2 separate regions of the Homo sapiens genome follow, and region 2 is linked to region 1. The links come from fine-mapping of genetic effects on gene expression. Tissue or cell type: whole blood. Region 1 holds a variant in brackets; the other region holds the start of a gene. All regions are shown on one strand. Distances are from middle to middle.

What was found. PIP is the estimated chance that this variant, and not a neighbour inherited with it, causes the effect.
Region 2: it holds the start of AKNA, and the variant in region 1 is fine-mapped to the expression of AKNA in whole blood (INTERVAL, PIP above 0.99).

The regions. Positions count from the first base shown.
Region 1 is chr9:114,649,214-114,657,317 of GRCh38, forward strand. It overlaps TEX53 (testis expressed 53), which reads right to left. Exons shown (of 2, transcript NM_001354645.2): 2 at 7,091-7,419. The coding sequence ends at 7,316. Among named protein-coding and RNA genes, the nearest start is that of TEX53, 4.5 kb to the right of the region's middle. RefSeq lists enhancers at 4,127-4,633, 4,461-4,510, 4,521-4,600. The variant A/C (reference allele first, on the strand shown) is at 3,943.
Region 2 is chr9:114,383,361-114,391,464 of GRCh38, forward strand. AKNA (AT-hook transcription factor) reads right to left here and starts at 4,622. Exons shown (of 22, transcript NM_001317950.2): 1 at 4,500-4,622. LOC124902253 (a long non-coding RNA gene) reads left to right here and starts at 4,690. Exons shown (of 3, transcript XR_007061742.1): 1 at 4,690-4,893; 2 at 5,085-5,229; 3 at 7,483-8,104. RefSeq lists enhancers at 1-162, 2,195-2,264, 2,285-2,334, 2,455-2,514, 3,285-3,434 and 3 more.

The sequences.
Region 1 (8,104 bases):
TGATTAGTCATTGCGTAGTATATCTTTGTTCATCCTTTTACTTTTGACCTTTTCACATTCTTATATTTAAGGTTTCACCCTTGTAGGCATGTAAGATTTGCTTTTTTGAAATTAAGTTTTTTTCTAATTCAAAGTATTTACTACACTATATCTAATGTGTTTACTGATAGACTTAGGTTTGAATGTACCATCTTACTAATAATTCTTTCTATCGGTTTTTCTGTTACTGTGTTCTTTTCTTTTTTCTGTCTTTTTTCCTTGTTTTGGATTAAGGTTGTTTGTTTTGGGTAATTTCTCCTTTATTAGCATATGAAGTATACTTTTCTTTCAGTTCTTACCCTAGATTTAACAAGCATCCTTGACTTACTGAAGTGTATTATACATGATCACTTCTATCATTTCCTGGATAACCCAGCGACTACACAATTTTTTTTTTTTTTTTTTTTGGAGACGGAGTCTCCCTCTGTGGCCTGGGCTAGAGTGCAGTGGTACGATCTTGGCTCACTGCAACCTCCGCCTCCCAGGTTCAAGTGATTCTCCCGCCTCAGCCTCCCGAGTAGCTGGAATTGCAAGTGTGCACCACCACACCCTGATGATTTTTGTATTTTTAGTAGAGACAGAGTTTCACTATGTTGTCCAGGCTCGTCTCGATCTCCTGACCTTAAGTGATCCACCTGCCTCAGCCTCCCAAAGTGCTGGGATTACAGGTGAGAGCCACCGTGCCTGGCTCCAACAACTATACAATTCTTTCACCTTTCTACCTGTTACGGTAGTCTTGTCATGGATTTCAATTTTCTATGTATTTTAAGCCACAACAGACATTCTTATTAATGCTTTCTATAGTCAATATTCATTTAGATTTATTCACATGTTACTTTTTATTGCTCTTTGTTACTTCAATTTTATTGCCCTTTGTTCCTTTCTGTATTTCCATACATCTATTTTGGATCCTGCTTCTGGAACTAACTTTAGAATTTTTCTTCAATATAGTATCATATTTAGTATAGTATATTTAGAAATACCTTTAGTATTTTCCTTTCAGTACAGATCTTATGGTGACAAATTCAATTTTTGTTTGCTGAGAAGTCTGTATTTTGTTTTTATTTTTGAAAGATATTTTTGGTAAGTAAGGAATTCTAGGTTAGTGCAGTTATTTTCTTTCAACCTTTTGAAGATGTCATTGGTTTCTGTTGCTTCTGTTGAGAAGTCATCTGTCAGCCCCATTGCTGCTCTCAACATTTTCTCTTTGCATTGAGTTTTAGCAGTTATATTCTGATGTGCCTAGCTGTAGCTTTTAAAGTATTTTTCCTGCTTGTGCTTGTTCATAGCACATCTTGAAACTGTGACATGATATCTTTCATCACAGCATTCACCCTCTTCTCTCTCATCTTGTTCAGGACTCTAATGATAAGTGTTAGACCTTTTCACTATATCTCTAAGACCCTTCTTGGTATTTTTCCATTCTTTTGGTTCTTTGTGATTCAGCCTGGATATTTTCTACTGACTCGTCTTCTCCATTAATCTTGCCCTCATTTGTGTTTAATTCTATCAATGGAGTTTTTTTGTTAACCCTATGTTTCATTTAAAAATCAATCCAGTTTCTAATTTTTTTATCTTTTTTTTTTTTTTTAAGAGGCAGGGTCTTGCTCTGTTGCCCAGGCTGGAGTGCAGTAGCACAATCACAGCTCACTGCAACCTTAAACTCCTGGGACCTAAGACTCCCAAGTAGCTAGGACTATAGGCAGGTGCCACCATGCCTGGCCAATTTTTAAATGTTTTGTAGAGACGGGGTTTTGCTGTGTTGCCCAGGCTGGTCTTGAACTTCTGGCCTCAAGTAATCCTCCTGCCTCTGCCTCCTGAAGCACTGGGATTACAGCTGTGAGCCACCATGCCCAGCCTGAGTTTTTAATTTCATCCATCATAATGTTCAGTTCTATAATTTTGTTTTTTTAGAAATAGTTTCCAGTTCTCAAATGAAATTACCAATCTTGTCATCTATTCTCCTCAATATTTAATTGTACTGCTTTTAAAGTTTATGTCTGCAAACTCTAATATCTGGTTCTTTTTTTTTTCCTTTTGCTTTTCAGTCAGTTGGTCTTATTTTTTGATATTCATGGTAATTTTTCATTAAATGCTAGACATTTTGAAAAATGAAAATTTTGAAAAATTGAAGAGATATACAAGGCTCTGGATCTTCCCTCAGGCAGGATTTACTTTTGCTTCTGGGAAAAGTAGGCTTGAGATAAACTTGACCCTGGGCTTTGTGAGAGCTAGTCTAGGTGTGATTAAACCTTACTCTCAGGTTGTAGCCCTACAGGGGTTTTAGCTGAAAACGTGTGTGTGTGTGTTTATAAAACCAGGACTCCTCTTTCATGGTGAGTCCTAAACCTCCAATTTTTGTTACCCCAAGCTGTGAGACATTTTTTTTTTTTTTTTTTTTTTTTGAGACAGAGACTCGCTCTGTCTCCCAGGCTGGAGTGCAGTGGCATGATCTTGGCTCACTGCAAGCTCCGCCTCCCAGGTCCACGCCATTCTCCTGCCTCAGCCTCCCCAGTAGCTGGGACTACAGGCGCCCACCACCACACGCGGCTAATTTTTTGTATTTTTAGTAGAGACGGGGTTTCACTGTGTTAGCCAGGATGGTCTTGATCTCCTGACCTTGTGATCCACCTGTCTCGGCCTCCCAAAGTGCTGGGATTACAGGCGTGAGCCCCCACGCCTGGCCGCTGTGAGACTTCTGAAAGCTCTACTCAACTTTTCAGCTACTTGGACTCTGCTTAGGACTCGGCAGGTGCCTCAAGGGGATAAGAAGGCTTCGGTGCTCATCTCCTCTCTCTACTTTTCTCTTCAGCATCTTGGCCCCTCGTGTCCTGACTATGTTGATATCTCTCTGATGCATTCAAACACATTTAAGAAAAAAGAACAATTGCTTTTAAACTGCTGTCAGCAGGAGGGTTGGTCTGATACAAGCTAGTTTACCATGATCAGAAGTAAATCCAGCTGTGGTTTCCATGATTATTTTTATTGTTACTATTTGAAAATCCTTCAAAGAAAGATGTCACCCTGTGGCTGAGAGCCCTTTAAAAAAGTCACAGGATGGAGGCTTCTTTGCATCCCTTCTGTGAAGGAGTTTCTAAATTATCAAAGCAGGAAGTGACATTTAAGGAGCATCTTTTTTGTGTAAAGCACCTGCTACAGTTGTTGCAGAAAGCAGTCCAAGAAATAAGGAATATGGGGTTTGCTGGGGAAGGAAAGTGGGACCTTCGCATGAGAGGAGGTGAGGAATGCATAGGACAAGGGGAATCTGGGTAAGAGGGTGGGTCCAGGGGATACAGTATGAGAATGGGCAGTGGAAGAGGACTCTGGACATGAGGTCCGGGAAAGTGAACTGTATCTTCACCCAACAGATGCCAGTGGGGTCTCATCCCATGGGGAAGAGGTGCCACGATGCAGTGAGCTGACAACTCCACACACATGTTGTAGGCCTCTCTGCTTCCTTCCAGCTATAGTTCTTTTACCTTTTCCTGCTAAATATTGCCAACCTTCTTAATATGGTCATCTGGATGTCCCATAGGCCCCTCCAGCTTGGAATAGCCCAAAATTAAGTGATCTGCTGTTGTTGTCAACTTGGCCTCAATACCACAAGGACCTCATTCCCTAGAATCTTCTTTCCTGTATGGTTCTGAGTTAGAATTGGCCAGCTTTGCCTGAGAAATATGACTCAAGGTCCTCTTATTCATCCTGACTGCTGCTGCCCTACTTTAGGCCTGTATCACTGTCTGTCCTGATTGCCTAGGCAGTCGCTTAATTTGTTTTGTTTTGTTTTGGTAGAGATCGGGTCTTGCTGTGTTGCCCAGGCTGATCTCAAACTCCTGGCCTCAAGTGATACTCCTGCCTCTGCCTCCTGTATTTCTGGGGCCACAGACATAAGCCCAGCCTCTT[A/C]ATTTGATTTCTGCATTAGTCATGATCCACTTGGGAGACAGAAACCACATAACAATTTGAATATGAGAAGATTAATATAAGTACTAACTAGAACAGGGGATTGGAGTAATGAAGGAGTGGTAAGAAGTCAGGAGAGCTTTAAAGAATATAGGAATAATGGACATAAGGAGCAGCCAGCACCCCTAGAACTAAGAAAGAACACCCCCAGGCTCTATCCCCAGCTGAGATCCAGATGTTGCTGGGAAGGGCATGGCTGTGCCTCACAATGGCAGAGAAGTCTGGGAGAATGTTCTAGAAGTCTGCCCTTGGGTGCCAGGGAAAGCTGTCATGGAACAGTGTCTGATTAGAGGCACACCTATTTGTGGGGGCACTAGGAGAAGCTGCTAGTTGCCAAGTGCTACTGACCACCATCCTCTGCAGGATTCCTGTTCTGGAAAAGTTGCCTGCACTGCGGGAGGGTGATGTTGGAGAAGCTGTGAGCTCTGTGCTGTTAAGATGAGCCCAGCACAACCAGAAAGGAAGGCCTCTTCCTCCTCCAATGTCTCTAGCTCCCCCTCCTGACAGAGCCTAGCATTGCACCAACTACCAAAAGAAAAATATTTAAAGGGCCAGCTCCATTTTTGAAGAGCAGGCGATGAACAGTAAATTTGGGGTCCAGAGTAATAACTGAATGTCATTCTACCATTATCGAGGGGCCGCATAACCAAGTTGTTAAGAGTGTGGACTCTGCAGTTGGGTTTCTTGAGTTAAAGTCTTAGCTCTGGCACTTAATGTGAGTTAGTGTAAACCTTAAAAGATTTATTTAACCTGTGTCTCACTTCCCTAATCTGTAAAATCAGGTAGTAACAGTTCTAACCTTGTTGGGTTATTGTGCTGATTGGGTTGATATTTATGAAGCACTTGGAAGAGGATCTGGCACAGAGTAAGCAAGGAACCAGGCTGTCTATTGTGATTACTATTACACTCAAATCGTGGTGGCATGCGCCTGTAGTCCTAGCTACTTGGGAGGCTGAGGCAGGAGAATCGCTTGAACCCGAGAGGTGGAGGTTGCAGTGAGCTGAGATCGCACCACTGCACTCCAGCCTGGATGACAGAGCGAGACTCCGTCTCAAAAAACAAAACAAAACAAAACAAAATCCATCCTTCACATTATAGCCAGGATGGGCTTTTCATTGAAGGTATGAATTTTACTCCACATTGCCATGGCATAGACATCATATTCCTTTATTCTTCTCTTTTCTGAGGTGGGGAAGGCATAAGGAGTGCTAATTAATAAATTGTCTTCTGGCCGGGTGTAGTGGCTCACGCCTGTAATCCCAGGACTTTGGGAGGTTGAGATGGGCGGATCACCTGAGGTCAGGAGTTTAAGACCAGCCTGAACAAAATGGCAAAACCCCGTCTCTACTAAAAATACAAAAATTAGGCCGGGCGCGGTAGCTCACGCCTGTAATCCCAGCGTTTTGGGAGGCTGAGGCGGGCGGATCACCTGAGGTCAGGAGTTGGAGACCAGCCTGATCAACATGGAGAAACCCTGTCTCTACTAAAAATACAAAATTAGCCAGGCATGGTGGAGGGTGCCTGTAATCCCAGCTACTCAGGAGGCTGAGGCAGGAGAATCGCTTGAACCCGGGAGGCAGAGGTTGCTGTGAGCCGAAAGTGTGCCATTGCACTCCAGCCTGGGCAACGAAAGAGAAACTCCGTCTCAAAAAAAAAATTAAAAAAAAAAATTAGCTGGGTGTGGTGGCACTTTCCTGTAGCTACTTGGGAGGCTGAGGCAGGAGAATCCTTGAACCTGGGAGGTGGAGGTTGCAGCCAGCCAAGATCATGCCACTGCCCTCCAGGCTGGGTGACAGAGCAAGACTCCGTCTCAGACAAACAGACAAACAAACAAAAAAAGTGTTGTCTTCCAACTCGCCTTGTTTGTTATGGTCTGAATGTTAATGTTCCCCCAAATTCATGTGTTGAAATCTTAACTCCCAAGGTGATGGTATAAGAATTGTGGTCTTTGGGAGGTTTAGGAGGATTAGGTCATGAGAGCAGAGCCCTCACGATTGAGATTAGTGCCCTTATGAAAGAGCCTGAGAGAGACCCCTTGCCCCTTCTGCTATGTGAGAACACAGCAAGAAGCGCCCTCTATGAGGAACAGGCCCTCACCAGACACTGATGCTGCTGGAGTTTTGATCTTGGACTTCCCAGCCTCCAAAACTGTGAGAAATAAACTTCTGTTGTTTGTAAGTCACCCGGTTATGGTATCTTATTTTAGTAGTCTGAACAGACTAAGGCACTGTTCATAGTACAAAAGTTGGAAATCAGGCTGTGTCACTTTGTTGCTTAAAACTCACCTGTGGCTTCCCATTATTTTCAAGATAGAGTTCAGCTCCTTTTCCCTGGATACAAAGCTCTTGATGCTCTGCCCACTTCACCTCCCACCAAACCCTGGCTCAGGTTTTCACTTGAGTCATTCTAGACTTGGTACTTTGCTACCCTCATGCCCTCCCAGGTCGTGCCCCTATTTTCCAACTTTGCTGATTGTATTCCCTCCTTCTGGAATATCATCCCTTCTCCTTTTAGCTAACTTCCCTTCAAGCACCATCGCCTCCAGGAAGCCTTCCATTAATCCCCGAGTCAGTTGCAAAATGCTCCTTTGTCATTTTGCTTTCCAAGTTTTTGCCCTATTATGTCAGAGTGATACACTTCCATGCCTGGCTCCCTGGCTAATGTGGAAACCATGTGGGGTCTTCTGCATATTACTCACAGTTGCATACTCCGTGTTTCAGCACAAGCGGTGCTGCGTATCAGCACTGGCTACGCATTGCATAACTCTAGGGCTGCTGTTTGTAGAGTTTTTCACAACATGCCCTGCTGTTCCCTATGGCCCTGAGCGTCAAATGGAGTCGCACAGTAGGCAAGCAGAATTGTGCCCTGAAGCTCTGGACGTTTATGACAGTGGCCTGTTATACAAACTGGCCTCTCCTAATATAGCACTTCCCTGTTAGGTTGGTTAGGAGTGACTGAAACAAATGTGTTAATGCGTTAAAATGACAAAACCACATTTCTTTCCAAGAGGTGCCAGGGTCTAATTGCTCCATGTTTTTGGGAATCTCAGAGGTAGGGCTGGCAAAGGGGGAAGGAGGAGAGACACTTCCTCTGATGTGACCAAGGACTTTAATTGGAGGCGGCTCCCCCCCACGGTGGCTTTTTCAGAAGCTGGAGTGACTCTTGGTGGTGGCACAGGGATGGCTCAGACGTCTTCTCCTCCTGCAGGGGAGTTTCTGAATCAGTCTTCATGACTCTTGTCCACTGCCCTCTTCCTCATGGAAGCCCAGCAGCTGTGCAGCCGCAGGGACCACGTGGGTGCCGCCGGCTAGAATGCTCATGGCCTCCTAAGGATGCACGCCTTGAGCATCATGCGGTTGTCATAGGGGAGGCGTGGATGTCTTTTTGGTACAGCACTGTGGAGAGAATTTGTGTTCAGATCTGAAAGAACAGAGGAATAAACTTATCCTGGGTAAAGGCTTTGAGTGATGCGCGTATAACCTATCTTGGCCATACTCCACTCAGAGACTCCTCAAATCATTAATCTCTTTAAAAATAAAAGTTTGCTTGTATGAGCTAAGAATGATCTCGAGCTGGGTGAAGCAATGGAGATTTTAGAGTTTACTCATTACCTCAGCGTGGCCCAGCTGATCCTTATACACATCCACAGATATCATTTGTTGAATGTCTTTTTTTTTGTTTTGAGGTGGAGTCTCGCTCTGTCGCTCAGGCTGGAGTGCAGTGGCGCGATCTCGGCTCACTGCAAGCTCCGCCTCCTCGGTTCACTCCATTCTCCTGCCTCAGCCTCCTGAGTAGCTGGGACTACAGGCGCCCACCACCATGCCCCGCTAATTTTTTGTATTTTTAGTAGAGACGGGGTTTCACCGTGTTAGCCAGGATGGTCTCGATCTCCTGACCTCGTGATCTGCCCGCCTCAGTCTCCCAAAGTGCTGGGATTACAGGCGTGAGCCACCGTGCCCGGCCTTGTTGAATGTCTTCTTTGTGTGGGGCCATATGCATTCACTTACACACGGTGCCTGCCTTCATCCTCCTAACAGCCTGCACAGTGGGCAATATATTATCGTTATCCTCATTTTGGAGAGAAGGATGCTGAGGCTTAGAGAGG
Region 2 (8,104 bases), 270 kb before region 1:
GCCAGCACTGAGCCAGGCCCAGGAAGTGCAAAGCTGACCCAGAGTGGGCACGGTCCCCCAGGGAGCTCCCTGCCATGGAGGGTTCAGAGAACTGCAGCCCATCAGTGCAGCGGCCCCCAGAGCAGCTCACACAAAGGCCTTCTTCCACAGATGGGGAAACTGGGATCCAGAGAGGGGAGAGGCCTTGCCTAAAGCCACACAGGGGTCAGGACAAGGCAGGGGTGAAAGTCAGCCTCCTGGCCCACAGTCTGGGCTTTCTCCCCTGCATGCTGTGTTGAAGGCAGTATGACTCCAGGCCTCCCAGGACAGAAGGTCTGTGTTTGTCCCTTTATCCTCATGAACACTTGGATCCTGCTTGATTTGTGTGGCTGAGAAAAGTCAGCAGGCAACTATTTTTGGACACAAAGTTCCCCAGGGAACAGTGCAGCCCGGGAAAGGCTGACTTCTCAAGGGCTGGAGGAGGGAGGTGCAGGGAATACCATTCTTCCCTCCTTGGCTGCGACTCCTGCTCTGTGGATGGGTGTTCGGGGCTTCTATCCTCTGTCCCCGCCCAGTCTTCCTCTCTACCCCCAAATGCAGAGCCCTACAATTTCCTCCAGATCACCCTGTGTATTGTCCTCCAGCCCCACAGTCCCTACCACATGTGAAGAGCCCACTCGGCGCCAGCCTGGGTTGAAGCTTTACTTTTAAATTCTCAATCTGCCCTCCTACAAACATGAGGGTAGAATTTGGCTAAGATCACCCAGCTACTTCCTGCCACAGCAAGATTTGCAACTGTCAATTCTGGCCTAGTGGTACCCCAATATTTTTTTAATCACACAATCCATCAGTAAAAATATATTTGCTCGAACACATCACGCTAATATATTACATGTATTGGAAAGAGTATTTTCAAAAGTGATCTTCTAAAAAGATGCAATCGAAAATGGGCCAGGTACAGCGGCTCACACCTGCAATCCCAGCACTTTGGGAGGCCGAGGTGGGCAGATCACTTGAGCTCAGGAGTTTGAGACCAGCTTGGGCAACGTGGCAAAAGCCTGTCTCTACTAAAAATAAAAAGGAAAAAGAAAATATATACAGGTGACCCTTAATGACAGTTTGAACCACACAGGTCTACCTATATGTGAATTTTCTTCTGCCTCTGCCACCCCTAAGACAGTAGATCAATCTCCCCCTTAACTCCTCCTCCTCAATGTGAAGATGACAAGGATGTAGGCCTTTATGATGATCCACTTCCACTTAATGAAAGTAAGTAGATTTTCTCTTCCTTATGATTTCCTTAATAACATTTTCTTTTCTCTGGCTTACTTTATTGTAAGAAAACAGTACATAATACATATAAGACAGAAAATATGCATTAACCAACTGTTTATGTTATCAGCAAAGCTTCCAGTCAATAGCAGGCTATTGATAAAGTTTTGGGGGAGTTAAAAGTTATAAGCAGATTTTTGACTGCATGAGGCACTCCTAACCCCTGTATTATTCAAGGATCAACTGTATTTTATTTTATTGAGACAGGGTCTCACTGTTACCCAGGCTGGAGTACAATGGCAATCAGAGCTCACTGTAGCCTTGACCACCTGGGCTCAAGCGATCCTCCCACCTCGGCCTCCTGAGTAGCTAAGACCACAGGTATGCGCCACCATGCCTGGCTAATTTTAAAAATTTTTTTTTGTCGAGATGGGGTTTTGCCACGTTGCCCAGGCTGGTTTTGAACTCCTTGTTTCAAATGATCCTCCTGCCTCGGCCTCCCTATGTGCTGGGATTACAAGCATGAGCCACCCACCCAGCTGGTCAACTATATTTTAAATAGAAGCTCTAATCCTTGCTTCTCATACCTTCTGCAGGGCCTGTACCCTTCTTGGAAATCCCTGCCAGGGATCTTAAGCTTCAGTGTGCTTAAGAATCCTCTAAGCGTGCAGTTTCCTGAAACAACCTGCAGAGAGCCTGACTCAGTGGCCCTGGGATAGGGCCCAGGAATCTGCATTTTAAACCAGGGCCTCAGGCAGGGCCTGCCCTTTGAAGTTCACTAGGCCTCCTGGCTCCTGCTGTTATGGCAGGTGGAGAAGAGGCTACAATTTAGCTGTTGCTTTTCTGATTCTGAAGCCTCTGCTGAGGAAGGGGCCGGGGGAGGTGTGCGGTTTTTTGACTTTTTAAAGGGCTTTTTTTCTAGCTCTGCCACAGAGCAGCCTGCCCAATCACAGAGCCCTCTGGGTGCACAAAGAGGAACATCCTGTCTTCTGGGATGACTCAGTCGTGGCAGAAATCTCACTGTAACCAGGGGAAGGTGCACGTCAGAGGCAGCTGCAGTGACTGACTAGAGTTTCGCACTTGCCCCCAGGCGCCTAAACCAGTGAGCCTTTCCTGAGCCAGGCCTCTGCCTTCCATGCGAGCCATGGCCCTCCTCACCACAAAGCCCCAGAACTGGCCAGTCAGCTAGTCAGTCAACAAACACACGTTAGTGCCAACTACCTGCCAACCTCAGGCTGGGACGATGCTGTGATAGAGAAGCAGGCTGGGCATCAGGAGACAGGTGCTAGTCCTGGCTGCTGTTACTCACTGTGTATAGCTGGGCTTGCATTTTCCTCACTGTAAAATAGAGAAAGTACCACCTGCTCTTGATATCGCAAGGGGATATCACCCTGCTAGGGTGGGTTGGGAGGCAGGGTATGGGACTCAAAGAGCTTTGAAGTCCCTGATTGACTCAGCTTCTAAGGGCAACAGCCTCAGAACTGTTAACCTCTCTCCTCCTCCCTGAGGTCACATTTCAAAGTACAAAGATACATACTGAGCACCCAGTGGGCGCAAATTAACTTTTTAAAAAAGCCCTATGACTTCCTACTATATACCAGGCGCTACGTAAGATGCAAAGAATATAGAAAAGAGTAAAAGTGTTCCAAGATTTTAAACGGTGGGGGGTAGTACAATACAGAAGTGTTACCAAAGGAAGCTTTAAGGTGGGCTTGAGAAACAATGAGGATTTGGGGGAGAAGACTGGGGAGGGCATTCCAGGCAGCGGGAACAGCACGGAGGCAAAGGCACGTAGGTCTGAAAGTATGGCCTGACCTTGAAGGAGAGCTATGGGCAGGTGTCCCTGCATGCCAGATAAAGGCAGAGTTGTTCCAGCCAGCCCTCGTTAGGGCAGCAGGGCTGCTCCTAAAAGGCAGTGAGTGGGGTTTGGTGAAGACTCCAGCAGTGTGAGCTGGGGAGGGCTATGGAGTTCAGGGTCCCCGCCATCCCTGGAGAAACTGGCCCCACAAGGAAGTAGCAGCCACTGCACCCTCCTTCTGCACATCTCCTTCTTACACCCAAGCCGCCACTGCCCCTGCTCTCTCAAGGGTCTAACAGACCCCTGAGGTGTCTATCTTCAGTTCCTGGGTGGGATGGACTCTTCTTCCCCACCACCCACACAGGGCTTCTCCGCCCGCTCAGTCATTCCACAGCCAGGGACCCTTCCCTTTATGGCTCAATCCCTCAGAACTGCCCAGACGCCCAGGCTCTCCTTTGCCAGCACAGCTACGCAGCCCGCACAGCCTCCCCGTGCCCTCTGCAGCCCCTTCCCATCCAGCCAGAGCTGTCCAGGGTGCCACCCTGCTTCTACCCCCACCCACACCCTGACACCTCCCAGATGAAGACACTGAGGCACAGAGACATGGCCTGCTCTCACAAGACCTCACAGCCAGGAAGCGCAGACAGAGGATTCAAAGCTGGGGTACCGCAACTCTGAAACCAAGGCTGTCAGATGTGTCAGGGAGATGGGGAAGGAAGACCACCCCCCAAATCAGTAACCAGACCTTCCAAAAAGGCTCAACCATACCCCCACCCACCTGCTGGCAGGGCACAGACTTGCTGTTCTCAAGGGGTTCCCACCAGCTGTGTGGACTCTAGTCCCACAAGGAAGCACCAGCCACTCCCTCTCTGTGTCCTCCCTGCCCCCAGCCCGCTCCAGCAGCAGAGGCCGAGGAGAAAGAGAAACGGTGCCCTGGCTGTTGCCAGCTCTGGTCTTGCCATCCTCAAGAGCTGAGCTGGGTCTGCTGGTCCTCGGACTGTCCTTGGCTCCTCTCCTTGCTCTTACGCAGCTGGCATAAGGGGCCACTCCTTCAATAGGGACCACCCCCCGGCGCCGTCGCTGCCTCCTGGCCTGCTGCCCATGCCTGCATCGTCTCTGAGACCCCTTAGCAACCAAGGACACTAACTCTCCAGGTGCAGACGACGACACCCCAGGCACAGAGATGGACCCGCCTACCCAAGTTCACAAGAGATCAGAATCAGAGCTAGGACTGGAATCTAGCATCCTGAGGCTTGACGAAATCCTCCTTAAATCCACCCTTGCCCTGGAGGCCGGGATCCCCTAAGCCAAGAGAAAAGCGGTGCAGCTCCAGCAGCTGCAACTTCCTGGCTGGGCTGGTCCGGCTGCCTGGACTGTCCCGGAGAGTCTGTGACTGGCCCGTCCAGAAGGAAAGCGGCCTCCCGGGCCCTCCTCCGTTCCAATCCCTTACCTCTCTCGGGCTCCACCACCGTCCTGCCGACCCAGTTTCAGGGGACCTGCCTGTGAATTCTTTGTTCCAAACCCAGGGAGCCCCCTGTCTCCATTGCGCCCTGGCCCACCTCCAGGCCGTTCTGCCAGCCCAAGCTGCTGCTCACAGACCAGCATCGCTCCCCACCTCTCCCCGCCCCTGCCGTGGTTGAGGCCGCCTCGCCTCGGCAGGAAGCGCCCAGCCTGATTTCCTACAAGTGTTTGTCAGAAGGAGGGGGTTTGTCTGCGTGCAGAGCAAGAGCTGGAGGAGCTTAACCCCTTGCAAGCCCTCCGCAGTCAGCGCTGCCCAGGAAAGGACTCAGGGAACAAACTCCTGACGTCCTGGGCTTGGGATCATCTCAGCCCAGGCCCTGCAGGTACAGATGGGGAGACTAAAGCACAGAGAAGGTCAGAGGCTTGGCCAAGGTCACACAGCATGCTGTAGCTCCTACCCTCTAGGCCCTCTTCAACCACGGCCTGACCTTAGCCGAGGCTCCTTCCCTCACTAGGCCTCAGGGCCCATGTGCACGGTGAGAGCTCAGACTCAACACCACTCCTGCCCTTCCAGCTCTGACTCTGCCAATGTGCAACCTGAATCTCAGGGAGACCGTGGTGATTCCTGCCATCTCAACCCACCGTCCTCACCCCGAGGTGGTCCTGCAGCCAGAGTGGGATGTTCGGGGCAGCATGGAGGTGTGAACCTGGCGGATCAGGTAAACTTTCCCTTGTTGTAAGAACCCTCCAAGGGTTCACCAGATGTTGGGAACAGATCGATCCTGATGGTCAGTCGAGCTATCTTTCCTCAAGCCCCACCATCCCATTCCTTCATTCGTAGGTACTCACTGAGCTCCTACTGTGTGGCGGGTGCTTTTAAATCACCTGGGAATATGGCAGGGCCGAAGACAGGCCAGTCCCCTGCTCTCCACTCTAGCAGAGACATGGACAATAAGCAAGCACATGTATAATTTCAAGGAGAGAGCTGTGAACAATGAGACTGGGTGACGATCCGTGTCCCAGGCCAGGTGGCACTGAAGCCTGGGGCTCACCCCAGGCCAACAGAGTCAGTCTCTGGGCATCAGACATTTTAAGTGTCCCAGGTGACTGGCCCTGGTAGAGAACACATGGGGCCAAGAGTAATGGGTTGGAGGAGAAGGGTTATAGGACGGTCAGGAAGGTCTCTATGAGGAGGTGACATTCAAATAAGGCACTGGAAGGAAGAGGGGTCAAAAGCAAGCCACAAGAAGGTTTGGGGCAGAGTGTTCTGGGAGGGCAAGTGGAAAGGCCAAGGTGGGGGAGCCAGCGGGCTTTCCCTGAGAACAGCAAGGCCTGTGTACCCGGGGCAGAGCGAGTCAAGCGGGAGAAGCAGGAGCTTCACAGAAAAGCGGGCACAGGAGCACAAGAGGCTCCCAACACTGGCCCCACCCAGGACCCAGAGACTCTGAGTCAGGAAACAAAAAGAAAGAGGAAAAAAAACAGGCCTCTGTATTGTCCAAAAAGCCCTCCAGGTAATTCTGATAAGCAGCCAGATTTGGGAACCACCCATGTAGGAGAGAAAAAAATCTCAGAGTCACTGTGGACCTGGGTTCAAATCCCAGCCCCATCTCCTGCTGGCCCTGACCTTTGAGGCTTCACGTCTCTAAGCCTCAGTTTCTTCATCTGTAAAACAGGGATAAGAAGAGTAGCCACCCCACAGGGGCTGCTATAAAGATTCAATGACATGATGCCTACCAAGGGTAGAGCGGGGGAGCCAGAACACAGTCATGTATTGAGCTATTTTATTATTGCTACTACAACTATTGCTGCTACTTAGGTATAAGTCTCTGGTCTCCTCTAAAGGCTAGATCTTAATATCTTTCCTGAAGCCTGGCACACTGTTTATGGCTGATGAATGTGTTCTGTGAATGAATGAATGAATGAATGAGTGGACGTTCCCAAGGTCAGCTTGTGAATATCTGGCGTAGCCAGGGCTAGAACCAGGAGCCCTCATCCTGGTAATCGCCCACCCCTCTATCCCCTTTCCTGCCTTTTACCCACATCTGGGTGGCAGGGCTCTCCCTGTAGCCCCCAGCCCCACATGGAGCAGAGCCAAACCCTAATGAGGCCCCTCCCTATCAGCTCTGGAGGCCATGTGTGCCATTGTGCAAGGGGCGGGCTCCCCTGACACCCTGTCACTCACTCACCCTCCCTCCCTGGTCATTAACCCAGGCAGCATTAACCCAGGTGGCTGCCATTGCTGGGCATAGCCTGTGGCCCCTGGATAACCCCAAACCCATCTCAGGGGCAGCCACCTAACACCAAGGAGAACCGCCTGCAGTGCAGTCTGTTCCATTTCCTTGCACCCCCAAGCATGACCAACCCTCCTCCCTGCCTTTGCTCATGCACTGCCCCCTCTTGGATCACTGTCCCCACCCACAGGCCAAATTCTACCAAACCGAAGCAGCATGTCTAAGACTGAGCTCCTAGTATTGCCACCCTCCAAACCCACCCCTCCTTAGTTTGGCCCATCTTTCACCCAGGTACACACTGAGAATCAACTGTGACCCTGGACACTTCCTTTTCCCTTACATCCCATAACCAATCCATCGTCAACTCCCAGTGATTTCATTTCCTAAATTTCACCAGAATCTGTCCCCGTTTCTGCATCCCCACGTGGGTCCCTGGATCGGCCTTGCCTGGAAAGCTCTAGGGTCCACTAATCTGTTCCCCACACTGCACCGATGTGGTCTTCCAAGATAAAAGTTCCAAACAAGACCCTTCCATGCTTCAGACGCACAGCTAGCTACTATGGCTCTGAGAAAGAAGATGAAACTCCACAAGCTGGCCGCTGCTGCAGCCTCTTCTCCCACCACCCTCTCTGCCCTTGCTCAGCATGCTCCTGCCATACAGGCCTCCTTGCTTTTCCTGGGACAGATGTGTCCTGCTCCTCCCCTCACCCAGTCCCACTTCTTTTCCCTGTTAACTTCTAGGCAACCTCCAGATGTCAGCTCCAGCGTGCCCTCCTTGGGGACTCCCCATTTGGAACTATATTTCATATGTGATTATTTGATTAACATCTGTCTCTTCACTCAGTTGGGAGCTCTGTGAGGCTCTCATCATCATATCCCCAGGACCCAGCACACAGGCCCTGATATACAATAGAAATACAATAAATATATCCTGGATGATCCACTCAACCTAGCTACTTGCCCAAGCCTGACTCATAGCCCTCATAACAACCCAATGAGGCTGATGTGACAACCCCATTTCACAGTTGGGTAAACAGAGGCCCCTAGAGCCCAAGCAGCTTGCCCAAGGTCACAAAGGTGATGAGCTGCAGTAGAGTTTCAAACACACAAAGACCTGGCTTCTAATAACCAAGCTTGGTGCTCACAACATTGCAGCCCGCAGAGATAATTAATACCTGTGCACAATAAAATCGAGAGTGGAGCTTCTTACCAACTAATTGCAATTCACAAAGCCAATGTTCCAATTTTATAGTGAGGCCCTGGTTCCACACAGAGCCTTTTGGTTTCCCAAAATGCTTTCTTCTCCTTTATAGCACTAGATGCTCAAGAACAGAACGTTTAAGTGGGGAGAACACGAGTATTA